2 separate regions of the Homo sapiens genome follow, and region 2 is linked to region 1. Evidence: fine-mapped expression QTL. A gene starts in region 1. The other region holds a variant in brackets. All regions are shown on one strand. Distances are from middle to middle. Region 1 holds the start of ZFAND4 (zinc finger AN1-type containing 4). Region 2 overlaps ZFAND4 (zinc finger AN1-type containing 4).

What was found.
Region 2: its variant is fine-mapped to the expression of ZFAND4 in whole blood (INTERVAL, PIP above 0.99).

Annotation. Positions count from the first base shown.
Region 1 is chr10:45,664,132-45,680,258 of GRCh38, reverse strand. ZFAND4 (zinc finger AN1-type containing 4) reads left to right here and starts at 7,487. Exons shown (of 10, transcript NM_174890.4): 1 at 7,487-8,009. It also overlaps the pseudogene AGAP10P. RefSeq lists a silencer at 7,185-7,904.
Region 2 is chr10:45,631,609-45,647,735 of GRCh38, reverse strand. ZFAND4 (zinc finger AN1-type containing 4) reads left to right here. Exons shown (of 10, transcript NM_174890.4): 6 at 7,773-7,920. Among named protein-coding and RNA genes, the nearest start is that of ZFAND4, 33 kb to the left of the region's middle. The variant C/T (reference allele first, on the strand shown) is at 9,171.

The sequences.
Region 1 (16,127 bases):
AAAACTGTAACTTTCTTATCTTTGAACAAGATGCTATTGTCAGGAGGGGAAGGGACAAAGGGGGAGCCATGGCAACAAACACTCTTACAGGGAAGGTCTGACATTTTAACCTGCAATCTTTATATTACACATTGAAAGTCTACATTGACGTTTCATGTCTTTTGAAAGTTTTGACCATGAACCAATCCCCACCTCTCTTTTAGAACAAGGAGGTAAATAAAGTCTGTTAAGTCACCAGAATAAATCTGGAGACACATTTTCTGTTAAAGTAAGAATTTTAAAGTAATCAGAGCCTCATAGGTAAACTCCTTTGAGAAACCCCAAACACACACACACAACCATTTTTCTGCAGCCCCGGCTGTGACATTTCACACCTTTCACAATTATTTTAAGCACTCTCCTTTTTTCTTTTTCCTTCTGTGTTCAAATTACAGTTAGAAGAAACTAAGCAGCTTCTATCAAGGTGACTTAAAGCAGCCCATTAAGAATACCATATAGCCTCTCCCGTGGCAAACTCCATTCTGATTTTAAATAAGAAATCCCCAAATATTTGAATAGGAACTGTCCTGAGATTTGACTACTTTAACAAAGGAAACAATTAGGCACTTACCTGGTTCCTTCACTTAGGTACCATCTGGATAGGTACAAAGAAAAAATAAGATGGGTACTGAAAAGTTGGGATATTTGAGTTTTTATTGAGAAAAGGAAGAGAATAGCTCAAAGAAGCCTAAACAAAGTCCCACAGGATAATAAACAGAGCTACAGACACTGTTGTCTCACCATCTGTTTGAGAGTTCCTCTGGAATATTGTGCTTGCCTCTGGATTGGCAGAAAGGTTAAACTCCAAAGCTATATGTATAGAGGGAGAAAAGAAAAAAGATGTAATCATTTATAAAAATTTATCAACTCATTTATTCAACTGCTGCTTATTCGACAAGAGCCATAAATAAATGGTCCCATGCCAGCCTGGGAGAATGAGGTGAGAGAGCAAGAACTGGGCGATTGGGAGGGGAGGCGAAAAGAAACTGACTGGACTTGGTGGGGAAAGACTAAGGGGTGGGAATTCAAGGCAGAGCCAGCTTTTGTTCCTGGCCAGCCCCCGGAAAAGCTGGCTACAAGCAGAAAGGAGCTCAAAGTGGGGGATGCCTCAAAGGGAACCTTGGGGACAGCAGCAGCCAGAGGCAAACCGAGGGTAGATGGCACCTATCACCTCCTTACCTTCAGGCATCTCCCGGTCACGAACGTGGTGCATGTGGAGGTCCTCACCAACTTCAACAGTCACCTCAGCAGGCTGCACAGCAGCAGCCATGGGCGCTCCTGCCATCCTGTCCCCAGCTACTGCCTCATAGATCTCAGATTCAGAGGGACACACCGACCCCTGTTGCTGGTCAAACTCGAGGCTGACGCTAGGGTGCACACGACAGGTCAGTATGTTCCCCATGGGGTGCCTCTACTGTCTGCCACCACCTGTGCCTCTGCTCACAGCTTTGGCCACGCACTCCCGCTGTCCTAGGCCGAGGCTATGCTGCACTTGCAGAGATGGTCTTCCCGCTCCTCGCCTGCCCACCTCACAGCGCGGCCCCGGGCACCAGCCCTGGCCCTGGCCCTGGCCCTGGCCCTGGCCAAGGCCCGCACCCTGCTGCCTCCCCTGAGTTGACTTGTCTGGGAGGGTGAAGACCAGCCGGCTTATTTAATAGGTTGTGAACCCAACAAGTGCTGAGAGACACAACAACTGCCTGAAGAGAGAACAGACGGAGCTCCTCCTCCTTCTGTAGTCACCTACAGACTGAAGCCCACTGGCCCCAGGTGGGAGCCCAGGCATGTGGCACACAATGCCCCACCCCACACTTCACAATGCCCTCCCCGACAGCTCACAGTGCCCCACCCTGCCTGCCACCCCTCCCCAACAGCTCAGAATGCCCCTGCCTTGGCTGCCCCACCCTGCGGCTTATGATGCTGCTGCTCTCCTGGCCCCTCGTGCAGTGCCAGTGGGACTAAGGTTTTCATTCATCACCAGCTTCCTGAGATTTTAGTCCTAAGAAAAGCACAGGGTAGTTCATTCCTTGAAGCCATCTTCCTCTATGAGTTCTATACAAAGCCTCAGTAGAGTGGGTCCCATTAGCAACCAAGTTGAACAACTTTTATTTGCTGTCTGAATATAGATACACCTGAATTGTTGACTGCTTTTGTAACTAAACACTCCTCTCCTGTCTTCCAACGAGTGGTCATTTTTGTCCGCAACTTGACCACAGCAATCCCTGGGGCCCTAGCGCTACTCTCAATAAAGAGTTATGGCTGTGTGTTTTGAATGACACCTTAGGACCCATCCTGCCTCCACCTCCTTCTCCATAAAATGGAAACCTAACTTGTCCCTCTCCAAGCTCTGAAATGCTGAAACTTACCAACTCCCTTTTCTCCCCGCTATTTCTTCCTTCCGTGGCAGGGACTTTCAGGTTTTCTTTCTTTTACTAACAAGGCACTAAGCATGATTTTCTCATACAAAATCGAGAGCCATAAAGTGGCTTACCACAGTCCTATTTCAATAAAGATGAATACTCGACATCTGGCAAGTAGTGTGTGCCTGACACTGTGCTATGCTCATTTAACCCTCAGAAACAATGTCATTTTACAGATTTTACTGAAGGAGTTGAGATGGAGAAGGTAAGTAACCTCCCCAAGGTCACATGGCTGCTAAGGTTGGGGCCACAATTTGATCCCAGGTAGTCTGAATTCCCCAATTCCTGAAGCATGATTATCGGAAAGCACATTAGTCTGTTTCACACTGATATAAAGAAATACCTGAGGTTGGATAATTTATAAAGGAAACAGGTTTAATTGATTCACAGTTTCGCATGGCTGGGTAGGCTTCAGGAAACTTACAATCATGGCAGAAGGGGAACCAGGTCCGACTTACATGGTGGCCGCACAGAGAGTGGGAACATGTGAAGGAGCAACTGTCAAACATGTGTAAAACCATCAGATCTCAGCTGGGCTTGGTGGCTCACACTTGTAACCCTGGTACTTTGGGAGGCCAAAGCAGGTGGATCAACTGAGGTCAGGAGTTCGAGACCAGCCTAGCTAACTTAGTGAAATCCCGTCTCTACTAAAAATACAAAAATTAGCTGGGTGTGGTGGCGCATGCCCGTAATCCCAGCTACTCAGGAGGCTGAGGCAGGAGAATCACTGGAACCCAGGAGGCAGAGGCTGCAGTGAGCCAAGATCGCGCCATGGTACTGCAGTCTGGGTGACAGAGCAAGACTCCATCCAAAAAACAAAACAAAACAAAACCCTATAAGATCTCATGAGGACTTACTGAATATCACAAGAACAGCATGAGGATAACTGCCCCCGTGATCCAATCACCTCCCCCTAGGCCCCTCCCTCGACACATCAGGATTATGGGGATTATAATTCATGATGAGATGTGGGTGGGGGGACATGGCAAAACCATATCAGAAAGTAAAGGTAGAAGTCAAGCTTGAACAGGAAATGACATTGTAGATTACTATTTTTTTTTTCTTTTTTTTTGAGATGAAGTTTTGCTCTTGTTGCCCAATGAAGTTGTTTTTCTAATTTCATTTTCAGATTGTGTCTTGCAGATGTGTAGAAATACAATTGATAAATGATTCTGGCTATTAACCTTTGATGCTTCAACCTTGCTGAACATGTTTTTTTTTTTTTTTTTTTGAGACGGAGTTTAGCTCTTGTTGCCCAGACTGGTGGCATGATCTTGGCTCACCACAACCTCCGCCTCCCGGGCTCAAGAGATTCTTCTGCCTCAGCCTCCCTAGTAGCTGGGATTACAGGTATGTGCCACCATGCCCGGCTAATTTTGTATTTTTAGTAGAGATAGGGTTTCTCCATGTTGGTCAGGCTGGTCTCGAACTCCCGACCTCAGGTTATCCGTCCACCTCGGCCTCCTAAAGTGCTGGGATTACAGGCATGAGCCACCGTGCCCGGCCAAATCTGCTTATTTTTAAGCTTTTTGATGCTTTTCTGTTTTGTTTCAGTTTTTTTTCCTATTTATTAATACAAGTTCTTTAGGTATTTTGGATAATTGTTAAAAAGCTTTTTAATTTGTTCATTGGTTTCTTTGCTGTGAAGGTTTTCAATTTGGCATTGTCCCATGTTTAGTTTGGCTTTTCATGTCTCCACTTTTGTGACATATTCTGTAAATTATTGTCAAGATCAATACCTAGAAACTTCTAGACAAAAACCTAAAAGAAAAGTTTTCTCATTTCAGGTCTTACACTTAAATGTTGTTTTTTGATTTTTTTTTTTTTGGAGACAGAGTCTCGCTCTGTTGCCCAGGCTGGAGTGCAGTGGTGCGATCTCGACTCACTGCAGCCTTCGCCTCCCGGGTTCAAGTGATTCTCCTGCCTTAGCCTCCTGAGTAGCTGGGACTATAGGCACGCGCTACCACGCCCAGCTAATTTTTGTGCTTTTAGTAGAGACAGGGTTTTGCCATGTTGGCCAGGATGTTCTCGACCTCCTGACCTTGTGATCCACCCGCCTCCGCTTCCCAAAGTGCTGGGATTACAGTCATGAGCCACCACGCTTGGCCACATTTAAATCTTTAATAAATTTTTATTGGATTTTCGTTTGGCAAACTATGCTACCCCCCCCCCCCCACTGTCTGATCTTGTTAATAAAGTTTTATTGGAACACAACCACATTCATTGATTTACTTACTTTCTATTGTTGCTTTCACCCTACCTCCAATGTAAGAGTTGAGTAATTATGACGAGACCGGATGGCTCACAGAGCCTCAGATGTTTTCTATCTGCCCCTTTTATTTATTTTTTTGAGACGGAGTCTTGCTCTGTCACCCAGGCTGGAGTGCAGTCATGTGATCTTGGCTCACTGCAACCTCTATTTCCTGGGTTGAAGCGATGCTCCTGCCTCAGCCTCCCGAGTAGCTGGGATTACAGGCGCCTGCCATCACACCCAGCTAATTTTTGTATTTTTAGTAGAGTTGGGGTTTCACCATGTTGGCCAGGTTGGTCTTGAACTCCTGACCTCGTGATCCACCTGCCTCGGCCTCCCAAAGTGCGGGGATAACAGGCGTGAGCCACTGCGCCTGGCCCTGCCCCTTTACATAAACAGTTCGCTGACCATTGCTCTAAGGCATTCTGTTCCATTCTTGCCTTGTGGAAGCAGCAGAATGAACCTAGGTAATAGCCGGGGGAAGTGCTGAGGATAGAAATGTCAGCCTCTAGAGCAGCACTGCCCCATAGAACTCTGCAGGAATGAAAATTTTCTTTATCTGCATCGTCAAAGGCAGTAGCCACTAGCCACCTGGATGGCTGACCCCATTCTAGTCTGTGTTTTTTGGTGCTCTGTCGTCTTGCTGCTGACTATTCAGCCTGTCACCATGGTGCAGTCTTGTAGGCCGCCCAGGTTGGTCTCAGCGATCCTGGAGCTACTGACTTCTTCCTTGGGCACTGTAAGATCAGACAGGGAATTACTCATACCCAGAGTCAAAGATTTTGTTCAGCTCCCACAGGTCAACCATTTGCCCAAGTCTGCTGTGAGAGTGACGTGATGACAGATGAGGGCACTTGCTAGTTGGCCACTCCTTTCCCCTATTCATTTTATGCATCTTCCTTCTGTCCGTAGGTTATTTGTGCACATAGTTTCTTGCTGTAGTACCCAATGTCGGTCAGAGTCAGCATTTGTTAAATACGATGATTTTCTTTTGGAACAACTAAATCTACTCATCAATCAGTAGGATTGGTTTCAGGGGATTCAGGAGACAACAGGTTTAGAAAATACGCAAGCTGCTATTTTGAGAGGCTTGAAAGGGAGAGAGAACTTACGTTAAAAAAAAGTTCCTATGGTAACAACTTTTAATGCTATTTTATTCAGTCTCCATGGTCTATCAGATAGGTAATGTAGTAACACTAATTTTACAGATAAAGCTAAAATCTGGAAGCAATGTGGAATAATGGAACAAGGTTGGATTTTTGTATTGTGTCCTAGTTTAAATATGGCTTTCCGACATAGAGCTGTTTGATTATAGGTAAATTGTTCTACTTTAATTGGCTTTTGTTTACTCCTTTGTAGACGAGGGATTTCACTACCAACTTTGCAGGATTGTGATGGGGAGAGAATACGTAAAGACCCTTATCAACTATCTGGCACTTGAAGAATGGCAGATGATAATGATGATGATGTTGTAAAGAATGAATGACTTGGCCAGGTAATGGAGCTTCTGGTATTGGGAGGCAAGGCTTTAAACACACCTGCCTGACTCCACGGTCCATGCTGTCAATTCTCCAGTGTGAATGAAGTGGGCAGGCAAGGGTGAGAAACGCTAAGGTTTTTACTCAGTAAGTCTCCATCACAGGCCCTATTCTAGGCTCAGGAATGCAAAGATGATTACCATCATAGCTCTGTCCTCAAAGGTCTCCAATCTATTTAGCATTAAGCATATGTGGAGTTTCAGAAGGAACCAACGGCGAGACTGGTGAATCAATGCCCAGTGCCTCACCATACTCCCCCAGTGTATGCTCAATAGTTCGTTGAACTGTGGAGATAAGTTGGTGGGTAGGGTCTCAGAAGAATGAGAGAGGACAGGAGACACAGATTAGATGTTTAGTTTCATATTAGACTGGCTCCTCTGAGCCAGAAGTCGAGGATGAGTGAACCCGCAGTGGGAGTGAGATGACATTCTTTGTCAGCTGAGTAACCCACTTAGTGAAGGAGGTTCACGGAGTTGGAAAATCGGTAGGGGGAACGGAACGAGGCAGTGGGCTCCCATGTTAGGTTGAAAGGCAGGTGTTGGCTTGAAGCCAGTTACTGTTTACACCGCAGCTCAGCAGCTTGGAAACTGGAGCAGGAGGTGTGGCTGGGCTTACCCAACGCTGGGATTTGAGCCCAGGGTGCCTACTCCATTGCCTGGCCTACAGTTCTCAGTAAATTGTATGAGGACTACAGAAAGTTATCTGTTTTCGCCTTTGTCTTCAAGCAGGCACGGTAATGCCCCCATTTTCCAGATGAGGCAATTGAGGCCAGAAACATTAGGGGACGGTGAAGCCTAAAGCAGATTTGTTAGGACAGGCCGGCCCAAACGCACCAGGAGCGCCCCTCACTCTGGAGAGGCCACCGACTGGACAGCGTCTGCCTGTATCGCCTATCTCCAGCAAATCAGGCGCCTGGAAGAGGATCCCCGGTGGGTCTCACGGAGGGCGGCTCCGGCTTCAACCCCGCCGTTCCCAGCAGGCCATGCGGCTGCCCTCCAGACGCCCGCGTGGGCACGAGTCAGGGGTCCAGTGTTGCTAGTAATAAAAGATCAACATCCGGGCCTCGTAACTCACAACCTCCAGCGAATGCCAAGAAGGCCCCAGGGCCCTGGCGCCCCGGCAACCGCCCACGTCCGGGGGCCAGGCCTGCCCCCGCCCGCGCTGATTGGAGGGCAGCGAAAGCGCCGTCCAGCGATTGGTAGGTGGTGTCACAAAGGGGCGGGGCGCGGCGGCAGCGGAGCGTTGTCGGCCAGTGCCTTCCGTGAAGTTGCTCGCCGGGTCGTTGGGCCCTGTCGACCTGTAGGCGGGCGAGCGAGCCAGCGGACAAGACTGCGGGTGAGGCTGAGCTAGCGAGCGGCCGGCAGGGGGGGCGCCCGGGCTGCGAGCCGCTGAGCCCAGCCGCGCTGCCGCCGCCGGCCGTCGTGGGGCCGGAATGGCGCAAGGCCGGAGTGGCGCGGGCGCTCGGCGCTGGGCTGCCGGGTAGAGTCCTGTCCCCGCCCCTCGCCTTGCGGCCTGACGCCGGCCGCTGCTGCCCGGGGACCGGAGCGGCGGGCCGCCTTTGCCCAGGACACACGCTCTGGCGTTTGTTCCTTTGGGCGTGACGCCAGCTTCAACGGGTACGCGGCTTTCCCGACGGGTGCTGATCTCCGAGTCGCTGTTGTCACGCGGACTGCTGTCCTCCAGATTCAGGCCGGTGGGTCTGGGGAGCCCGGATTGGTCTTGGAGGAGCAACGGCTGCGCAGGTGACTCGGTGGCCTCAAGTGTGTAGGTACCTGGATGGCGCGAGGAGATGCTGGCTCTGAAATACTTCCCAATTCCGCTTGCAGATGAACTCCGGACTAGAGTTTAGGCTACAGACAAGTTAGGCGGTTGATGTGATTCTGTAGCTCGTATTTCGAACTTTAGGGATGTTTTGATGTATCAGTAAATGTAGATCTGTGTCACAGTTTTAATGGCAGCTTCACATTCCGGATATCTTTATGTTGGGGAAAATGTTTCAAAGGTAACTGCTCTTCTGTAGCTAAGCTTCTTTAGAGCAGAGGTTGGAGAAAATTCTGAGTTACTGAAATTACGTATTCAGCGCTATTGCCTGTTTACCTTTAACTTCCATTTCATCCTTGGAGTTGTGTTTTTAGAAACTTTTCAGAAGAAATGAGAGAAATGCTTTGGGAATTGATTTTTTTTTTTTTTTTAAGTTCTAGGGTACATGTGCACAACGTGCAGGTTTGGTACATAGCTATACATGTGCCATGTTGGTTTTCTGCACCGACTAACTCGTCATTTATATTGCGTATTTCTCTTAATGCTATCCCTCCCCCCATCTCACTCCCCACGACAGGCCCCAGTGTGTGATGTTCCCCTCCCTGTGTCCAAGTGTTCTCATTGTTGAGTTCCCATCTATGAGTGAGAACATGGCGGTGTTTGGTTTTCTGTCCTTGTGACAGTTTGCTGAGAATGATGGTTTCCAGCTTCATCCATGTCCATGCAAAGGACATGAACTCATCCTTTTTTTATGGCTGCATAGTATTCCATGGTGTATATGTGCCACATATTCTTAATCCACTCTATCACTGATGGACATTTGGGTTGGTTCCAAGTCTTTGCTGTTGTGAATTGTGCCACAGTAAACATACGTGTGCATGTGTCTTTATAGTGGCATGATTTATAATCCTTTGGGTATATACCCAGTAATGGGATCGCTGGGTCAAATGGTATTTCTAGTTCTAGATCCTTGAGGAATTGCCACACTGTTTTCCACAACGGTTGAACTAATTTACAGTCCCACCAACAGTGTAAAAGTGTTCCTATTTCTACACATCCTCTCCAGCATCTGTTGTTTCCTAACTTTCTAATGATCGCCATTCTAACTGGTGTGAGATGGTATCTCACTGTGGTTTTGATTTGCATTTTTCTGATGACCAGTGATGATGAGTGTTTTTTCATGTGTCTGTTGGCTGCATAAATATCTTCTTTTGAGAACTGTCTGTTCATATCCTTTGCCCACTTTTTGATGCGGTTGTTTTTTTCTTGAAAATTTGTCTAAGTTCTTTGTAGATTCTGGATATTAGCCCTCTGTCAGATGGGTAGATTGCAAAATTTTTTTCCCATTCTGTAGGTTGCCTGTTCACTCTGATGGTAGTTTCTTTTGCTGTGCAGAAGCTCTTTAGTTTAATTAGATCCCATTTGTCTATTTTGGCTTTTGTTGCCATTGCTTTTGGTGTTTTAGTCATGAAGTCCGTGCTCATGCCTATGTCCTGAATGGTATTGCCTAGGTTTTCTTCTAGGGTTTTTATGGTTTCAGGTCTAACATTTAAGTCTTTAATCCATCTTGAATTAATTTTTGTATAAGGTGTAAGGAAGGGATCCAGTTTCAGCTTTCTACATATGGCTAGCCAGTTTTCCCAGCACCATTTATTAAATAGGGAATCATTTCCCTACGTCTTGTTTTTGTCAGGTTTGTCAAAGATGGTTGTAGGCTGGGCACAGTGGCTTACGCCTGTAATCCCAGCACTTTGGGAGGCCGAGGCAGGCGGATCACCTGAGGTTGAGAGTTTGAGACCAGCCTGACGAACATGGAGAAACCCCTGTTGGGAGAAATCTCTACTAAAAATGCAAAAAAATTAGCCGGGCGTGGTGGCACATGCCTGTAATCCCAGCTACTAGGGAGGCTGAGGCAGGAGAATCACTTGAATCTGGGAGGCGGAGGTTGTGGTGAGCCAAGATCACACCATTGCACTCCAGCCTGGGCAACAAAAGTGAAACTCCGTCTCAAAAAAAAAAAAAAAAAATCAGATAGTTGTGATTTTTGCACATTGATTTTGTACCCTGAGACTTTGCTTAAGTTGTTTATCAGCTTAAGGAGATTTTGGGTTGGGACGATGGGGTTTTCTAAATGTATAATCATGTCATCTGCAAACAGGGACAATTTGACTTCCTCTTTTCCTAATTGAATATCCTTTATTTCTGTCTCCTGTCTGATTGCTCTGGCCAGAACTTCCAACACTGTGTTAAATAGGAGTGGTGAGAGAGGGCATCCCTGTCTTGTGCCGGTTTTCAAAGGGAATGCTTCCAGTTTTTGCCCATTCACTATGATATTGGCTGTGAGTTTGTCATAAATAGCTCTTATTATTTTGAGATACGTTCCATCAATACCTAGTTTATTAAGAGTTTTTAGCATGAAGAGCTGTTGGATTTTGTCAAAGGCCTTTTCTGCATCTATTAAGATAATCATGTGGTTTTTGTCATTGGCTCTGTTTATGTGATGGATTATATTTATTGATTTGCCTGTATTGAACCAGCCTTGCATCCCAGGGATGAGGCCGACTTGATCATAGTGGATAAGCTTTTTGATGTGCTGCTGGATTCGGTGTGCCAGTATTTTATTGAGGATTTTCGCATAGATGTTCATCAGGGATACTGGTCTAAAATTCTCTTTTTTTGTTGTGTGTCTGCCAGGCTTTGGTATCAGGATGATGCTGGCCTCATAAAATGAGTTAGGGAGGATTCCCTCTTTTTCTATTGATTGGAATAGTTTCAGAAGGAATGGTACCAGCTCCTCTTTGTACCCCTGGTAGAATTTGGCTGTGAATCCATCTGGACCTGGACTTTTTTTGTTGGTAGGCTATTAATTATTGCCTCAATTTCAGAGCCTGTTATTGGTTTCTTCAGAGATTCCACTTCTTCCTGGTTTAGTCCTGGGAAGGTATATGTGTCCAGGAATTTATCAATTTCTTCTAGATTTTCCAGTTTATTTGTGTAGAGGTGTTTATGGTATTCTCTGATGGTAGTTTGTATTTCTGTGGGATCGCTGGTGATATCCCCTTTATCTTTTTTTATTGCATCTATTTGATTCTTTAGTCTTACTAACAATCTATCAATTTTGTTGATCTTTTCAAAAAACCAGCTCTCAGATTCATTGATTTTTTGAAGGGATTTTTGTGTCTCTATTTCCTTCAGTTCTGCTCTGATCTTAGTTATTTCTTGCCTCCTGCTAGCTTTTGAATTTGTTTGCTCTTGCTTCTCTAGTTCTTTTAATTGTGATTTTAGGGTGTCAATTTTAGATCTTTCCTGCTTTCTCTTGTGGGCATTTAGTGCTATAAATTTCCCTGTACACACTGCTTTAAATGTGTCCCAGAGATTCTGGTGCGTTGTGTCTTTGTTCTCATTGGTTTCAAAGAACATCTTTATTTCTGCCTTCATTTCGTTATTTACCCAGTAGTCATTCAGGAGCAGGTTGTTCAGTTTCCATGTAGTTGTGCAGTTTTGAGTGAGTTTCTTAATCCTGAGTTATAATTTGATTGCACTGTGGTCTGAGAGACAGTTTGTTGTGATTTCTGTTGTTTTACATTTGCTAAGGAGTGCTTTACTTCCAGCTATGTGGTCAACTTTGGAATAAGTGCGATGTGGTGCTGAGAAGAATTTGCCAGACATTAAAATGTCTTTTAATTGGGGCATTTAGCCCACTCACATGTAAGGCTAATATTGTTATGTGTGAATTTGATCCTGTCTTTATGATGTTAGCTGGTTATTTTGCCCATTAATTGTTGCAGTTTCTTCACAGCATCAATGGTCTTTACCATTTGGCATGTTTTTGCAGTGGCTGGTACCGGTTGTTCCTTTCCATGTTTAGTGTTTCCTTCAGGAGCTCTTGTAAGGCAGGCCTGGTGGTGACAAAATCTCTCAGCATTTGCTTGTCTGTAAAGGATTTTATTTCTCCTTCACTTACGAAGCTTAGTTTGGCTAAGGCCAATATTACCCTGATACCAAATCCTGACAGACATAATGAAAACTACAGATCATCATCTCTTGTGATTATAGACACAGAAATCCTGAGGAAATATTTTCAGATCAAATCCATCAACATATGTAAAGGATTACATACCAGGTACAAATGGGATTTACCCCAGTAATGCAAGATTGATTTGACACATAAAAAGTAATGTAATATGTGAATAAAAAAGTAAAGAAAACCAAATGATTATTTCAATAGACAATGAAAAAAGCGTTTGATAAAATTGGCACCCCTTCATGATTAAAAAGAAAACCCACCTAAAGCAGGAATAGAAGGGAAGCTCGTCAACCTTATATTGGTAATCTATGAAAACCCCACGGTTAACATTATACCTAAAGACTCAATGGTTTCCTTCTACAATCAAGAATTAGACAAGGATGTCCAGTCTCACCACTTTTATTCAATCTTGTACTGAAGGTTCCAGAGCAGGGCAATTAGGCAAGAAAGGGAAATAAGCCCAGTGCAGTGGCTCAGGCCTGTAATCCCAGCTCTTTGGGAGGCCAGGGTGGGTGGGTCACCTGAGGTCAGCAGTTCGAGACCAGCCTGGCCAACTTGGTAAAACCTTGTCTCTACTAAAAATACAAAAATTTGCCTGGTGTGGTGGCAGGTGCCTGTAATCCCAGCTATTTGGGAAGCTGAGACAGGCGAATCGCTTGAACTCGGGAGGCGGAGGTTACAATAAGCGGAGATCGTGCCATTTCACTTCAGCCCGGGCAACAGAGTGGGACTTTCACCCCCTCCAAAAAAAAAAAAAAAAAAAAAAAGAAAGAAAAGAGCATATAGATTAGAAAGGGAGAAGTAAAACTCTATTTGTAAATGACATGATCTTGTATATAGAGCTTTTATAGAGAGCGTTTAGGAAGATTTAAATAACTAAATGAACGAAATAAACAGTTCAGCACAGTTGCAGTGTACAGGATCAAGATATTAAAATCGGTTGTGTTTCTATAAACCAGCAATGAGCAATCTGTAAATAAGACAGTGATTCCATTTGTAATAGCATTTAAAGGAATAAAATACTTAGGAATAAATTTAATAAAAGAGAACAAAACTTGTGCTTTAAAAATTATAAAACATTGAAATAAATTAGATATAAACTGAAAAATAGTATGTATTTATGGATTAGAAGACTTAGTATTAAGATTGCAGTACTCTCCAAATCTACAGACTTAATACAATCCCTGTCAAAATCCCAGCTGACATTTTTGCAAAATGGGCATACTTAAAATTCATATGGCAATTCAAGGAGTCCAGAATAGCCAACAATCTAAAAAGAACAAATTGGAGGCCTCACACTTCCTGATTTCAGAACTTACTACAAAGCTACATTAATTAAGATGTGGTGGTACTGGCATAGGTAGATCAACAGAATAAAGAGTCTGGAAATAAACCTTCACATTTACAGTAAATTGGTTTTTAACAAGGATCCAAGACAATTCAATTGGGAATGAATGGTAATTCTGACAAATGATACTGGAACAACTGGTTATCCACATGCAAAAGAATAAAGTTAGACTCTACCTCACACCATACACAAAACTAAATTGAAATTGGACAGTACACCTAAACATAAGAGCTAAAACTACAATTTTTAGAAACATATATAAGTCAATCTTTATTACCTTGGGTTAAGCCAAGCTTTTTAAGTATGATAAAAGAAAAATAGCCAAATTAGAGTTTAACAAAATTAAAAACCTTTGTGTTTCAAAAGATACTATCAAAAGACAACCCACAAAATGAGAGAAAATATTTACCATTCATATATCTGTTAAGTGTTTTTATCTAGAATATGTAATATAAAAACTCATACAACTCAATAAAAAATCCAATTAAAAAATAGACAAAGTATATGAATAGGCATTTCTCCAAAGAATGTATGCAAATGGCCAATAATCACATAAAAAAGATGCACAATATCATTAGTTTTTAAAGAAATGGAAGTCAACCACAGTGAGATACTACTTCACACCCACTAGGATAGCTTTAATCAAAAGGACAGAAACAAGTATTGTCAAGGGTGTGGAGAAATTGGCACCCTCATTCATTGTTGATGGGACTATAAAATGATCCATACCATTTAGAAAACAGTTTGGTAGTTCCACAAATTGCCAAACATAAGAGTTACCACATTATCTAGCAAAGCTACTTCAAAGAGAAAGGAAAACATATGTTTACACAAAAACTTGCAGTTGAATGTTCATCTTAGCACTATATGTAACAGCCCAAAATTGGAAACGACTCAAATGCTCATCAACTGATGGATGGATAAACAACATGAGATATATTGCTACAGGGGACTATTATTCAGCAATAAAAAGGAGTGAAATACTGATATATCCTAGAACATGATGAACTTTGAAAACATTATGCTAAGTGAAAGAAGCCAGTCACAAAAAAATCATATATGATTCTATTTATGTGAAATGTCCAGAATAGACCAATTTGGAGATAGAAAGTAGATTAGTGGTTGCCTAGGGTTGAGTGGGGGACTGGGGGAATTTGGGAGTGTTGGTTACAGGGTATGGGGTTCCTTTTAGAGGTAATGAAAATTTTCTAAAGCAAATGTGGTGATTGTTGCACAACTCTGTGTACATCATAAAAACCAGTGAATTTTAGGCTTTAAATGAGTGAATTTTATGGCATGTGAATTATATTTCAATAAAGCTTTTTTTTTCTTATTTAATGATGGAGTCTTGCTCTGTCACCCAGGTTGGAGTGCAGTGGTGCAATCTTGGCTCACTGCAACCTCTGCCTCCTGGACTCAAGCGGTTCTCCTGCCTCAGCCTCCCGAGTAGCTGGGACTACAGGTGTGCGCCACCATTCCTGGCTAATTTTTGTATTTTTTGGTAGAGATGGGGTTTCGCCATTTTGGCCAGGCTGGTCTCGAACTCCTGACCTCAGGTGATCCGCCCACCTCGGCCTCCCAACGTGCTGGGATTACAGGTGTGAGCCACTGTGCCTGGCCCTCAATAAAGCTATTTTTAAAAAGGTTTAACCACCTCACCAGAAAGATGTGTATCATTTGTCCTAGTTTAAGTTCAAGGCCCCCCTGTATAGAGTTTTCACGATTAATAGCAATAGCAATTTGATCATTTTTGTGCTCCTAGTTCTATACTTGTCATTTAGTTTACTACTTCTATTTGTTGGGCTTACCACTCATACTTATTAGCCATTGTATGTATGTGAGCAGAGATTGTCTAATACTTATTACCAATTCTAATGTCATCTGAATGCTATAATATCCTCTGGAAACCGTTGATGATTTAGTGAGTACTACTTTTTTTTGTTTTTGAGACCAGAGTCTTGCTCTGTTGCCCAGGCTGGGGTGTTGTGGCGCAATCTCGGCTCACCGCAAGCTCTGCCTCCCGGGTTCACGCCATTCTCCTGCCTCAGCCTCCCAAGTAGCTGGGACTACAGGCAGACACCGCCACGCCCAGCTCATTTTTTTCTTGTATTTTTAGTAGAGATTGGGTCTCACCATGTTAGCCAGGATGGTCTCGATCTCCTGACCTCATCATGATCTGCCATCTCGGCCTCCCAAAGTGCTGGGATTACAGGCATGAGCCACAGCCCCCAGCCTAGTGAGTACTATTTTTAAGCAACCTATTATGGTGGTTGGCATTCCTTTTATCCAGTATGATTCAAATATACAACAGGAGTAGGCATGGTGGCTCACGCCTGTAATCCCAGCACTTTGGGAGGCCGAGGCGGGTGGATCACAAGGTGAAGAGATCGAGACCATCCTGGCCAACGTGGTGAAACCCCGTCTCTACTAAAAATACAAAAATCTGCTGGGCATGGTGGTGGGTGCCTGTAATCCCAGCTTCTTGGGAGGCTGAGGCAGGAGAATTGCTTGAACCCGGGAGGCGGAGGTTGCAGTGAGCCGAGATTGTGCCACTGCACTCCAGCCTGGCGACAGAGCGAGACTCTGTCAAAAAAAAAAAAAAAGTCAAATGTACAATCGTTGTAAAGTTATGCTTTATATGGTATAGAAGACATAATTTGTATGTTTTAGAAAAGGATATGAATAAATTTTTCAAAGCCTTACAGAAATATACTGATGTGTTTGTTGAGTTTGGCTTATATATCAC
Region 2 (16,127 bases), 33 kb after region 1:
TGGCCATTCACTGAGCAAGGCACTGATGTTGTAAAGATGATTATTCCTACCTTCATGGAGCATGCAGTCTGCTATGAAGAGTATCAGTGATATAATGTTGGTGATGTTATAAAAAGATATCAAGATCTCTGGGAGAATAGATGACAGGGCCTTTATTATGCATGAAAGGCAGAGAGTTAGACACATCCTCTGAGAAGAAGTGACCCTAAAAGGGGAGTGGAGTTTGCCAAGCAGACAAAGCAAGGGAAGGTGTTACACATCCTGCAAAATAAAAAGGTAGTGGTAAAATCATTAAAAAAAAAAAAAAAAAACAGCTTGTAGTTTGGAGAACAGTTTCTGTGGATCAGGAGTCCAGGCACAGCATTGCTGTGCTCCAAGTCCCACAATCTGGAGTCAAGGTGTCAGCAATTCTCTTATCAAGAGGCTTGACTGGGGAGGAGAATCTACTTACAGAGTCACTCTTATTGCTGGCATAATTCATTTCCTTTCAGTTATATGATGGAGCGCCCAGTTTTTTGCTGGCTATTGACTAGAGGCTGCCCTCAGCTCCCTTTTGATGAACCCAAAACCAACTGATTTGGGGCCTAAATTACATCTGCAACGTCCTTTGCCATATTCAGTTGGCTAGAAGCTAGATGTCCATCATGCCCACACTCAAGGGTAGGAAACCATATGTGATGTGAACACCAAGGGTCAAGAGTCAGAGAGATTCCCCTAGGCTTCTGCCCCTCCACAGAGTGTTACATGAAAGAAAGATTAGACTGAATTTTTTGTGGCCTCAGAGAGCAGACTGTGACACATGGGTGTTACCTGTTGACTTTAACATGTCAGCATCTGGTTAGCACTTCAAACTTGGCATAAACCCTGGGCAAGAAATGGAGGAGGTAGCAGTGAGGGTTACAGCCTTAGGCCATTAATAGAATGTCTTCATACCAGTTTTGCCGTGTGCTGGCTCACTGTTTAGTTTTCTTCTCTAGTACACACTCTTTTGGCTCCCTTTTCCTAAAGGAAACCCAAGCTCCTCAGCTTAGCGTATGAGTCCTTTGACAACGTGTTACCATCAGTTTTCCAGGTCTTCTCATTATGCTGTGTTTTTAGACATCTTTTCTCCTTTGCTTGAAACGTCATTTTCTCCTCTTACTCCAGCTTCTCCTCAGCCAACTTCTATTTGTGTTTATGACTCAGCCCAAATATCATCATGGAATTTAATTAGAACTGTCTTGTTGTTCATCACAAGATAATTTATATATTTTTTCTTCCTTTGTATTCATCTACAATAATTGGACAAGGAAAGGGATGGATGAATGAGAAAGAGGAGTAGAAAACAATCTGATCATACCATGAAGAACATTTATATTTCCTGTTCTAGAAGAGGCTTTCCTAGTCTACAACAGGGGTAGCAAACTTCTTCTGTAAAGGTGTGCAGATAGTAACTATTTTAGGATTTTTAGGCCAAGAGACAGCATCAAGGATATTAAATAGGTACTTATGTAACGAGAGAAAACAAATTTCCACAGAACTTTCACTAACAAAGTTCAAAATATAAGACTAACAATTGGGTACTTTTCTTCTGTTTGTACCACAGAATTCCAGAGAAGAATGGAATTCTTTTTCATGGGAATAACGTTTTACCTAATTGAGGTGGAAAGTTAGTGTTGCCCATCAAATTTGCAAAGTCAATTGCAAAAGTTCACTTGTTAGAGCTGATCTGTAATGAGATTTTATGTATTTTATCTTAGAAATTTTTTTTTCACACAGATAGGTACTGTCAGATGCTGATATCAGTCCATGAGCACATGCTTTTATTGAACATATTGATCATTTTTAAGGCGTTTATAAAATTCTATCAGATCTTCTCTTGGTGTTTGCCCTGGAAGCTCCTCAGTTGCACATTTAAATGAATTTTGAAATAGAACATTATTTGGAAATTGCACTGAGGTATAAAAACACTGCTAGACCTATAATTTGAGCTCGGAAATATATCTGCTGCAAATTTCTGTGGGAATAGAGATATCACTTAATTTCTACTTTTGAAAGCATGGGAATGATTGCAGCTTGCTGTTACGTGTAATTCAAACACTAGTTGTTGTTAACATGACATTATTGCAGTATATGTTTCACATATAAATATTGTTTTATTTTGTAATTTTAGGTTAAATTCATTATGAAACATTATGAAGTCCACAGTAAAAATTAATTTCCAAAGGCAATTTAAAAATTTAAAAAGTGTTTGTAATAGTAGTTAAGGCCAGTTCTTCTCATTCAGAGTTCCTGAGCTAAAAAAAACATAATAAAACTTTATTACCAGTAAGCCACCAAACTGATGATGGATAAGTCCATGAAACAATTGAAGTTTACCATTAACACTGCTGGTTTAATAACACAGGATAGACTCAGATATTTACCATGAAATACCTGCTGATGAATAATACAATGAATAACTGTAGACTTTAAAGACCTTACATGTTTAAAGGGCATGGTGGCTCACACCTGTAATCCCAGCACTTTTGGAAGGTGGGCGAATCTCTTGAGTCCGGGAGTTTGAGACAAGTCCGGGCAACACAGTGAAACTCCATCTGGAAAAAAATTAGCTGGGCCTGGTGGTGCACACCTGTAGTCCCAGCTACTTCGGAGGCTGTGGTGGGAGGATTGCTTGAGCCCAAGAGGTGGAGGTTGCAGTGAGCCGAGATCACACCACTGCACTCCAGCCTGGGTGACAGAGTGAGACCCCCTCTCAAAAAGACAAAAAAAAAAAAAAAAAGACCTTACATGTTCACTAACTATAAATTTGTCCAATAAGTTTTTTTCTGTTTCACACATCACCCCATCAGTTATAGCAGAGTTCACTTAAAGTTGTACTAAATTAGTATTTAGCAATTTATTTGAAAATATTCTCACCTGTAGTAGCTTCATGCAGACTATTCATAGGGGCCAACTCTTCAGTCACTTCAAACTTGGTATTGACGCCCTCAATAAACAATAACACAGAGCAATATGGGTAATATATGTCAGCTCATCAAAAAACAATCAGCTTTTTAAATCAGCTGTTGACATTACTTCCAATTCTATCAACTTTTTGAGAAATTGTCCCTGCTGGAAAAGTAATCTTTAAACAACTTTATTTTCTCAGGACATACTTCCTCAACTGCTGTGATCAATAGTGAATTAATTCACTATTGATGAGTAGCTTTCCTTGCTTGGCTAGCAGATATAAACATTCAGAAACTTCTTTGGTTTTATAGCTTCATTTTCATTTTTTATTTGTGTAAAGAAATTCTGCTGTGATGAGATATTCTACTGTAAATTTTCTAGTTTTTCTGACTGTTGCTTTCCTGAAAGTTGGGAATATTGTGATGAATGCCTAACCTGGTAATGTCTATTTATGCTGTTTTCCTTTAGCATAGCTATAGTGTCACTGCATTATAAGCATCATGCTTTGCTATCTAATTGCTAACAAATAATCCACTCTACGGTACCTTAAAATGGCAACATTTGAAGTCTACTTTTCTTGTTTGACAAGGTTGGGTATACCCTAGTAATAAAAAAAGTCACAGAATAGCAATATACATGGCAGTCAAAATACTGTTGAATTATGACTATGTTACTGTGATTTGTAGTTCTCCATATCACAGTGTAGAGCAACGAGAGAGCCACATAAAGTCTGTCATAGCTACTCAACTCTGCCATTGTAGGCAAAAGCAGCCATTTGTAATACATGATTGGGTGAATATGGCTTTGTTCCAATAAAACTTTATTTATGGACACAAATTTGAATTTTATTTAATTTTCATTTGTTATGAAATACCATTATTTTGAGTTTTTTCAACTAATTAAAGTTCATAAACCATTCTTAGCTCATGGGCCACACAGAAATAGAAATAGGTGGTGGGGCAGATTTGACCCATGACCATGGTTTGCTGGCTTCTACTCTAAAAAGAAAGAGGGAGAATTGAGTGTTAATTTGTTTCATTCTGATACAAAATGCAGCATCAGTCTTTTTTTAGTCTCAAATCTTTTTAGTGGATCATGCCACCTTACTGGTATTTTTTTTTTTTTTTTTTTTTTTGAGATGGAGTCTTGCTCTGTCACCCAGGCTGGAGTGCAGTGGCACGATCTTGGCTCACTGCAACCTCTGCCTCCCAGATTCAAGCGATTCTCTTGCCTCAGCCTCCCAAGTAGCTGGGACTACAGGCGCCCGCCACCATGCCCAGCTAATTTTTTGTATTTTTAGCAGAGACGGGGTTTCACCGTGTTAGCCAGGATGGTCTTGATCTCCCGTCCTGGTGATCCGCCCACCTCGGCCTCCCAAAGTGCTGGGATTACAGGCATGAGCCACTGTGCCCGGCCTGGGATTTTTTAAGCAGAAAGATAGATAAGGAGACATTGTAAGACTTAATGGTAAACTGTGAAAGTTAAATGAGGTCTTGGCTTTGCGATGTGCAGATTTCATGCTTGAATAATATTACATTTGCCTATCTTGTATCCTTTAATCATATCATTAAATCAAAAGATTTGAGGCCGGGCGTGGTGGCTCATGCCTGTAATCCCAGCACTTTGGGAGGCAGAGGCAGGCGGATCACCTGAGGTCAGGAGTTTGAGACCAGTCTGACCAACATGGAGAAACCGCATCTCTACTAAAAATGCAAAATTAGCCGGGCGTGATGGTGCATGCCTGTAATCCCAGCTACTAGGGAGGCTGAGGCAGGAGAAAGGGCGCTTGAACCCGGGAGGTGGAGGTTGCGGTGAGCCGAGATTGCACCATTGCACTCCAGCCTGGGCAACAAGAGTGAAACTCTGTCTCAAAAAAAAAAAAAAAAAAAAAAAAGATTTGGAGAAATTACATATAGCACTAAAAAAAATTTAGAAATTCAAGGAAATGTTATATTATATTTAAATATAAAGAAAGTCATTTCGGATTAAATTTATAAATTAGTATGTTAACCTAGTTACATTTTTTCATCTGAAAAAAATTTGTGATTGGATTCTAACTCATCTCATGAATCTATACTTCATGAGAGAAAACAAAATAATGTGGTTCTTTGAAAAAAAAAGGTGAATTTAAAAGTGTTTTTATACTCTAAAATGAGTCCAGTGATTTATCATGATTGTTCTTTTTTTTTTTTTTTTTGAGATGGAGTCTCACTCTGTCGCCCAGGCTGGAGTGCACTGGTGTGATCTCGGCTCACTTGCAAGCTCTGCCTCCCGGGTTCACGCCATTCTCCTGCCTCAGCCTCCTGAGTAGCTGGGACTACAGGCACCCGCCACCACGCCCGGCGAATTTTTTGTATTTTTAGTAGAGATGGGGTTTCACCATGTTAGCCAGGATGGTCTCGATCTCCTGACCTCGTGATCCACCCGCCTCGGCCTCCCAAAGTGCTGGGATTACAGGCGTGAGCCATCACGCCCAGCTGATTGTTCTTTTATATATATATATATGTGTGTATGTATGTGTGTGTATATATGTATCTATTCCATGAGAGAATAGGTCTTTTCATGACAGTAATGTTGAATCAGAAACTTCTTTCAGTATTCAGTAAAGATACTTAAAATGCCACAGAGTAACTCAGAAGTATTTAAGGTTAAAATATTGCAAGGTAACTGAGAATAGTGTATACTTGAGTTATTCCTTCTAACTCCACAGGGTGACATGACGAAAATCTTCATGCACCCTTCTTCAGGTATTGTATAGTTGGCCTTGAGACAAAAGCCTTCACACAGTAGAAGTTCTGGCACTCATCTGGGTGCACAAGCATGATGCAGTAAGTCCTGTCATTTGGTGCCTGGGGAAGCAATGAGTAGTAGTAGGAAGAATCAGCTTAGGAACCAGACACATAGGGGATTTGAATCTTAGGTCTGCTGTCTATAGCTTTCTGATCTTGAGCCAAATCACTTAACCTCTCTCACCTGCAGTTTCTTCATTAATAAAATCAGCTATAATATCTACCTTATGTAGTTTTGTGAGAATTAGGAATAATGTGTGGGAAGTGCCTGGCAGAGCAGGCATTCAGTAAATGGCAGGCAATATTATTACTTCAGTGTTGTACTTGTGTCAGTTATCATACTGTGGTAGCCATGCTGTAGTAGGTAACTGTGGCTGTCACAAGTCAAGCACCACAGACTGAATTGGTTGTGGAGACCAGTCCTACATTCTTCCTTCAGATGCTACCCATGCGTATAGTGCGTGTAATTAACCCACAGTTTCAGAACATTTCATGTTGCACCATATAAAATTTAGGAATGGGGCTGTCTGCTCTCTTTTTTGGCCTTGTGTGACAATATGTGCTTCAGAAACATTAAGGAATATACCCCATTAAGGCTGTCCTAAATTGTTTCCATTTCTTACAACCATATAAAACGGGAAATTTTCCTCATACTTCCATAGTGTAGATAACCTAGTTTTCCTATAAGTAAATCTGCATAGAAACTAATATGTATTCTTATTTTGCTTTATTTAAAGTCTTAATTGTTTTCCAAATGTGCCAAGCTTGTGTTTTATCAAATCCTTGCCATTCTAATTTTCCCATTATAGAAAAAATAAATTAAATTTCAAAATCTTTGTGTTCAGTTCATCAAACATTTATTGGCTATGTGCCAAGCGCTGTGCCTGGTGCAGACTCAGAAGATAAAGTCTAATGTCTGCTTTCAACTTGCTTACATGTGGGAGAATAAGGGGCAAAACAAACATGTAAGTATAAATATGAGGATCGTGTGATACATCATTATATTATACAATCAAAGAGGAAGGGCTCCAAATATTAATTACATTGAAATATGAATAACGTCGCTGTGGTTGATCAGTAATTGAAATGTTTAACCTGTTTAATAGCTTGTATCATGACTTGACTGGATGTGTTTTTTCTTGTTAAAATCTATGCTAGTCTAGGTTTTTACATTTTCAAACACACTTAGAAAAATTTGAAGTTATCTCTACTTAAAAAAATGTATTGGCTGGGCGCGGTGGCTCACACCTACAATCCCAGCACTTTGGGAGGCCGAGGTAGGCGGATCACGAGGTCAGGAGATTGAGACTGTCCTGGCTAACACAGTGAAACCCTGTCTCTACTAAAAATACAAAAAATTATCTGGGCATGGTGGCACACACCTGTAGTCCCAGCTACTTGGGAGGCTGAGGCAGGAGAATCGCTTGAACCCGGGAGGCAGAGGTTGCAGTGAGCCGAGATTGTGCCATTGCACTCCAGCCTGGCGACAAGAGTGAGACTGTCTCAAGAAAAAAAAAATGTTTTTTGCTCCTTAAGAATAGAAAATGTTCTGATGACACCTGTGTATGAATTCTTTTTTTTTTTTTTTTTTTAGTGAGAATCTCCTCAGGATGACTAAAAATCTGTACTTCTCTCCCGTGCCAAATTTAAAAAAATTCTGATTCATGGAAATCTCATCAGCCTGTTGTCTGGGTTGCACAATTATCAGCCTTGGCTGATAAAATGAAATCAGACATTCTCATGGAAATGGATTTTGCCTCTTTGGGAATGATATGGCAGGTGTCAAAACATCTTCATTTATGATATACTGAATTCAGAGAAGCTCAGCTATACTAGATTTTCAGTAATCCTAGATCATAATATTTATTCCCATTTCATTTTTTCTTTTAAGAAGTACATTCTTTGAAATATATTTTCCTGACATTAACATTGACAAAATGGATGTAGTGTTTTATCATTAGTAACTTCTATAGATTGCTGTTTCATATAGAGCATTTTTAGTCACTGAGCAGGTATCAGAAAAATTTCAAGTAGTTATTGTTTTCTTTGCAGTGGTGGTTCTATGTATAATTCAGATACAGATGAGGATGAAGAAACTGAGCCTTCTTCTTCTGGGCAACAGATAATTGAAAATTCAATAACTATGAATAAGATGAAGCTGCTGAAGGCTAAGATGAAGAACATGAATCTCAGCAAAAAGGTGAAGCTGTTGGCATTTGACCAGGCTTATCTCTAGCTTACCCCTGCAGAGCACTCAGCAATGAGGTCTGTTGGTCATTGTGAAAAAATTATAAAGTATTATTCATTTCAGGTTTCTGGCCTCAGTTATTTATTAAACTTCTAAAAGGGATAAATTGGATTTTTTGGATTAGAAGCACACCTGAAGGGATTATACTGCACTTAACATCATTTTAAAGATCATTCTGGGTCTAAGAAGGATAAAAAAAGAGAGCTTAATCTTAATCTGGCAATAATTACTTTTTAAAATATGTTAATATTTATTTATTATGGATAAAGATATCTACTATTTAGTAGATAGTGCCAGTTTTTTCCAAAGTGATTGAACCAATTTACATTCTTTACAACAGTGAATGAGAGTTGCCATTTTCCCATATTCTTACCAGTATTTGGCATGGTCCTTTGTAATTTTTGTAATCCTACTTTGTTTGTGGTGGCATCACATTGTGGTTTTAATTGCATTTCTCTCATGAGACCTGGAAGGTTGAGCACCTTTCATATGTTTATTGGGCATTTGGATACCCTTTTTAATAAAACACCTATATTTTTCCATTTTTCTATTGGGTTGTATGTTTTTTGTTACAGATTTTTTTTGGAGTTTTATATATATTCTAGATAAAAGTCCTTTGTTTCATATTACCACTTTATTGCTTTCCTTTTTACTCTATTAATGGCTCCCTTCCTTTTCATGTATAATAAAATTCAAAAATCTTTAATATACTACTTGACGAATTTTTACATTTATATACACTCATGTAGACACAACCCAAATTAAAATAGGACCTTTCACTCCAGAATGTTTCCTCATAATATTTCCCAGTTAATACGTACCTGTTCCTACTCTCAGAAATAACGACTGTTCTTACATCTATTACCGTAAATACGTTTTTCCTATTCCTGAAATTTATATAAATGGAATCATAGAGAGTATGGTCTGGTTTCTTTTGTTAAAAGTATTTGTTTGATTTATCCATGTGGTTGTATGTATCAGTTAATTCTTTTTTATTGTTGTGTACTATTGTACTGTGTGATTGATTTACCTCAATTTGCTTCTTTCTTTTCCTTTTGATGGACATTTGAGTTGTCTCTAGCTTTTGGCTTTTATCAATAAACTTCCTTTGAATATTCTCATACATTCTTTGGTGGACATAGCACTTGTTTCTTTGGAGCATATACCTAGCAATGGACTTTCGGAGTCAGAGGGAAGATGCA[C/T]GTTTAACTTTAGTATTATGCCAGACAATTTTGCCAAGCATTTTTTGGTTTTTTTGTTTTTTTGTTTTTTGTTTTTTTTCTTTTTTGAGACAGAGTCTTGCTCTGTCACCCAGGCGCTATCTCGGCTCACTGCAAGCTCTGCCTCCCGGGTTCACGCCATTGTCCTGCCTCAGCCTCCTGAGTAGCTGAGACCACAGGCGCCCGCCACTACGCCGGGCTAATTTTTTTTTTTTTTTTTGTATTTTTAGTAGAGACGGGGTTTCACCGTATTAGCCAAGTTGGTCTCGATCTCCTGACCTCATGATCTGACTGCCTCGACCTCCCAAAGTGCTGGGATTACAGACATGAGCCACCGCGCCCGGCCAATTTTGCCAAGCATTTGAACCAATTTACATTCTTCCCAGCAACGTGAGAGTTCTAGTTTATGCCACATTCTTGTCAACACTTGATATTGTCAGTCCTTTTAATTTTAACCATTCTGGTGACTGTGTAAATGGTTTTCTTTTATATTTCTCTAATGAGGAATAATATTGACTTTTCATATGATTATTGACCATTAAGATACGTTTTTTATGTGAAGTGCCTGTTCAAGTCTTTTGCTTATTTTTAAATTGAGTTCTCTGCCTTTTGCTTACTGATTTCTAGGCATCTTTATATACTATGGGTACAAGTCCTTTGTCAGATATATGGGTTGCAGATACTTCTAACACTCTATGGTGGCTTGTTCTTTTACTTTCTTATTCTTTGGGTGAATGTTTTTAATTGTATTCTAATTTATCAGTTTTGTTTTGTTTTGTTTTGTTTTGTTTTGTTTTTGAGACAGAGTCTCGCCCTGTTGCCCAGGCTGGAGTGCAGTGGTGTGATCTCTGCTCACTGCAACCTCCACCTCCTGGGTTCAAGCAATTCTTCTGCCCCAGCCTCCCAAATAGCTGGGATTACGGGTGCGCATCTCCACGCCCGGCTAATTTTTGTATTTTTAGTAGAGACGGGGTTTCACCTTGTTGGTCAGGCTGGTCTTGAACTTCTGACCTTGTCATCTGCCTGCCTCGGCCTCCCAAAGTGCTGGGATTACAGGCATGAGTCACTGCACCCAGCTTACTTTTATGATTATCATTTTTGATAACCTTTTGATGAAATATTTTCCTACCACAGGTCTTTAAAGCTTTATGATTGTTTTTCTCTCACTTAGGTTTAGTCCAGCTGAAATTTTTTTTTTTTTTTTTTTTGAGACGGAGTCTTGCTGTGTCTCCAGGGTGGACTGCAGTGGCACAATATTGGCCCACTGCAACCTCCACCTCCTTGGTTCAAGTGATTCTCGTGCCTCAGCCTCCTGAGTAGCTGGGACTACAGGCATGTGCCACCATGCCCGGCTATTTTTTGTATTTTTAGTAGAGATGGGGTTTTGCCATGTTGGCCAGGCTGGTCTCAAACTCCTGACCTCAGGTAGTCCTCCCACCTTGGCCTCCCAAAGTGTTGGGATTACAGGAGCGAGCCACCGCGCCCAGCTGAAATTTTTCTGATATAACGTAAAGTGGGGTAAAGATCTTTTTTTTTTTTTTTTCTGATGGGGAACAATTGACTTAGCTCTATTAAGAAAAAACATCCTTTCTTCACAGTCCTAAATGTTTATGCACTTAATAATAGAACTTCAAAATACATGAAGCAAAAACTACAAAGAAATAAACAAATACTTTTGTTGAAAGATTTCTACATCCCACTCTCAAAAATCGATGGAACAGATAGAAAATCAGTGAAGGATTTAGGAGACTTGAACAACACTAATCAACCTACTTGACCCAACTGACATTTACAGTATGCTCTACCCAAAACAGCAGAGTACACATTTCTTTTTAAGTGCATGTAGAACATTTACCAGGGTAAACCATATTGTGTGCCATAAAACAGGTTCAATTTTCTTTTTTTTTTTTTGAGACAGAATCTTGCTCTGTCCCTCAAACTGAAGTTCAGTGGCACAATCTTGGCTCACTACAATCTCCACCTCCCAGGTTTAAGCGATTGTCTTACCTCAGCCTCCTGAGTAGCTGGGACGACAGGCTCATGCCACCATGCCTGGCTAATTTTTTGTATTTTTAGTAGAGACGGGGTTTCACCATGTTGGTCAGGTTGGTCTTGAACTCCTGACCTCAAGCAATCCACCTGTCTTGGCCTCCCAAAGTGCTGGGATTACAGGTATGAGTCACTGCGCCTAGACCAGTTTCAAATAAATTATAAAAGATTCCAAATAATACAAAAATGCTCTCTGATTACAATGGAATAAAATTAGAAATTAATAATAGATATGTGGAAAGCTTTCTGATATTTGAAAATAACACACTTCTAAGTAACTGATAGTCAAGAAGTCCAAAGAGAAGTAAGTATTTTTTCACTGAATAAAAATATTCTGATATTGTGATGAACTGATTTTTTAAAAATATAAAATAGTCTTGCATTGTTAGAATGAACCATTCTTGGTTGTGATGTATTTTTCATTTCTTTAGATTTAAATTATTAATATTTTCTTTAGGATTTTTGCATTACGATTTCATTCATGAGAGAAATTTTGATCTATATTTTTCTTTTCCAATATACAGTAAGGTTGAAAGAATTTTACCATGAACACTTATTTATCTAATATCTAGATTCTACCATTAAAATTTTTTAAATTTTATTTTTGTGGTAAAATACATATGTCATAAAATTATCTTAACCATCTTAAGTGTACAAACAGTTCAGTAATGTTAAGTGTATAACACAGTGTTGTGCAACCAATCTCCAGAAGTTTTTTGTCTTGTAAAATTGTCATAACGTGTCAGAATTTCCTTCCTTTTTAAGGCTGGATAATATTTCATTGTATGGCTATATACCACACTTTTTTAATCCATTCATTCCTCAATGTATACTTGGATTGCCCCCATCTTTTGGCTATTGTGAATAATGGTGCTATGAACATAAGTATACAAATATGTCTTTGAGACCCTACTTTCAATGTTTTCTTTTAGTAGTTTCATAGTTTCAGATCTTAGAGTTAAGTCTTTAGTTCATTTAGATTTGATTTTTGTATATGGTAAAAGATAAGGGGTCTAATTTCATTCTTCTGCATGTGGATCCAGTTTTCCCAACATTATTTATTGAAGAGACTATCCTTTCCCCAGTGTATGTTCTTGGCATCTTTATCAAAAATAAGTTCACTGTGGGTCTGTGGACTTGTTTCTGGGTTCTCTGTTCTTTTCCATTGGTTGTGCATCTATGTTCATGTCAGTACTGTGCTGTTTTGGTTACTGTAGCTCTGTAGTATAATTTAAAGTCACATAATTGTGATTCTTCCAGTTTTTTTTTGTTTGTTTTTTTTTTGTTTTTTTTTTTTTTTTTTGCTTAGATGGCTTTGACTATTCTGTGTCTTTTGTGGTTCCATGTAAATTTTAGGATTATTTTTTCTGTTTCTGTGAAAAATGTCATTGGTATTTTGATAGAGATTATGTTGAATTTGTAGATTGCGTTGGGCAGTATGGACATTTTAACAATATTAATTCTTCCAACTCATGAACATGGAATATTTTTTCATATTTTTGTGTCGTCCAATGTTTTATAGCTTTCATTATAGAGATCTTTCACTTTTTTAGATAAGTTTATTCCTAGGTATTTTATTTTACTTTATTTGTAGCTATTGTAAATGAGATTACTTTCTTGATTTTTTTAGATTATTGTTGGTATATAGAAATGCTACTGGGTTTTGTATGTTGATTTTGTATCCCGCAACTTTACTGAATGTGTTTATCAGTTCTAATCGTTTTTTGGTGCAGTCTTTCTGTTTTTCCAAATACAAGATCATATTATCTGCAATCAAGGATAATTTGACTTCCTTCTTTCAAATTTGTATGCCCTTTATTTCTTTCTCTTGTCTGATTTCTCCAGCTAGGACTTCTAGTACTAGTACTTCTTTTCATTTAGGGTTCCTGATGATAATTCTCTCAGCATTTGTCTGAAAACTTATTTTACCTTTTTAATTTTGAGAAATGTTTAATTCTTTTTTTTTTTTTTTGAGATGGAGTCTTGCTGTTGCCCAGGCTGGAGTGCAGTGGTGTGGTCTCGGCTCACTGCAACCTCCACCTCCTGGGTTCAAGCGATTCTCCTCCCTCAGCTTCCCGAGTAGCAGTAGCTAGGACTACAGGCATGAGCCACCATGCCCAACTAATTTTTGTATTTTTAATAGAGATGGGGTTTCACCATGTTGGCCAGAATGGTCTTGATCTCTTGACCCCGTGATCTGCCTGCCTCGGCCTCCCAAGGTGCTGGGATTACAGGCATGAGCCACCGCGCCTGGCTGAGAAATGTTTAATTATTTAGAAATGTTATAAGACTAGATTCATCAATTAATATTTTCCCACATTTGCTTTCTGTTTGGATTTTTCTTTAGCTGATCTATGTGCAAGTTAGATATCATGACACTTCCCCTAAGTACTTTATTTATTATGTATCTCCTAAGAATAAGGGCCACCTTTTACATGATTATGATACAGTTACCATACTCATTTATGATTGATACACATTATGTCATCTATATTCATATTTCCCAGGTCTTAATAATGTGCTTAATAGCATTTTATATTGTTTTTAATCTGGGATCCAATCAAGAATGATGCATTGCATTTCGTTGTAATGTTTTCATAGTCTCCTTTTATACAAAACTGTTTCTAAGCCTTATTTGGACATGCATGTAAAATATTTTTGAAGAATATAGATCAGTTGTTTTGTAAAATATTCTTCAATTTGGAGATTTGGCTGTTTCATTATGATTAGATGGAATTTGAACATTTTTGGTAGGAATACTACACAGATGATTTATTCTTCTCAGTGCAACACATCAGAAGGCACATAATGTTAATTTGTAGTAGTTTCTTTTTCGTTTTTTTTTTTAAAGAAAATTTGCAATTTTAGTTGGTATTTCCTCATTAGTCCAAGAGTATTTTAATATATTTTGAAAATGTTCTGGTGGCAGAGGCTTTTTGGTTTTTCTTTTTCTTTTCTTTTCTTGTTTTTAGAGGTGGGAGTCTCACTATGTTACTGAACTCCTGGGACCAAGGGATCTTCTCATTTCAGCCTCCCACGTAGCTGGGACTATGTGTGCAGCACCATGCCGGGCTTGATTTTTCATTGTTTTTAATTTCTAGTTTTATTGCATGGAACTCAGAGAATATTGTTTGTATTTCTACTTTATAGCATTTTATTCTTTGGGATCTAATAGCACTTTTCATGAATATATACCTCAGAAGACAGTTTATTCTCTATCAAAAAGGTAAAAGTTTGCTAGATATTTATAAGATAGACCTTATTAAAGTTTTTTTTTTTTTTTGTCAACTTGATCTGTCTTAGAATGAGAATGGTAATAGATGAAGGTCTATTATTCATAGGTTTCTGTGTATTTCTCTTTTCATTTCTCATACTTTTTGCTGTAAGAAAGTGGTAGTTGTGTAATTTGGTACATAAATATTAATAACATATTTTCACTGTGTTGCTAGTTACAAAAGTAGTGAAATGTTTCATCTCTATCACATTCACTGACTTTCCCCTTGAATTTTCCTTGCCTGATATCAGGCCCATACCTACTGGTATCTTCTTGGTTTCATTTGCTTGGTATACCTTTTCCCATGTCTCTATTTATTAACTTTTAAGTTACTTTGTTTTACATATTTCCTTTATATACACTATAGAGTTGGTTTTTGCTTTGTGAGCCAGCTTGAAATTTTAAAACAGGTAACTTAATCACGTTTATATTTATTGATATGACTTCATATTTGGTCTTAAATGTCTTATTTTGTTATACTTACAGTTTCCTTCTCTATGCTTTCTTTTGTGTGTATCTGTATATATGAATGTGTAAGGGTGTATTTTTTGGTATTTCAGAAGGCTTTTGCATTTTGTTTTATTGATTCACTTTACATTAATACTATTTATCATGTTCTTGATCTGCCTTTTCCTTATTTAACCTTCTCCTCTTTTATTTGCCAGCTTTAAATATCCTTTGACTCCTAATTACTAAGTGAAAATCAGTGAACTTATTTTTTTCTCTTCTCTCTTCATCCTCTCATTAAAAATTTTTTTCTACTTTTTTAAAGAAAACATAGCCTTTACAAATCATTTTTCTTTCTACTCACTCTTATTTTAGTTTTAATTTTATTCCATCCTTTTTATTTATTCACTTATTTATTTTGAGATGGAGTCTTGCCCTGTCACCCAGGCTGGAGTGCAATGGCACGATCTTGGCTCACTGCAACCTGTGCCTCCTGGGTTCAAGCAATTCTCCTGCCTCAGTCTTCTGAGTAGCTAGGATTACAGGCGTGTGCCACCACACCCGGCTAATTTTTTTTTTGTATCTTTACTAGAGACGGGGTTTCACCATGTTGGCCAGGCTGGTCTCGAACTCCTGACCTTGTGATCCACCCACCTTGGCCTCCCAAAGTGCTGGGATTACAGGCATGAGCCACCATGCCCGGCCAATTGTATTCCATTCTTATGATCAGTCTTTTTGCTGTAGGTTTCCCCATACATTTTGGTTAGAAGAAGCTCATCTGAAGTCCTCAAGAAAGGCTTGTAGGTACAGTAATTCTTGAATTTTTCGATGTTCAAACCCTTTTCTTTAGACTTAACATTTTTATTTGTTTTTACCATTATGTATGATATTAATTGTAGGTTTTTCTTCTATTTTTGTATTTTCCTATTTTCATTGATACGTAATAGATATATTTTCAGGGTACATGTGATAATTTAATACATGAATATAATTTGTAAACATCAGATCAGTGTAATTGGGATATCCATAACCTTAAATATTCATCTTTTTTTAATGCTAGAAACATTAGCCTTAATCCTTACATGATGGCTTGCCTGGATATAAAATGTTTGGTTCACATCTTTTCCCTTGAGTTTGTCTAAAATGTTGCTCTGCTATGCTTTGCTTTT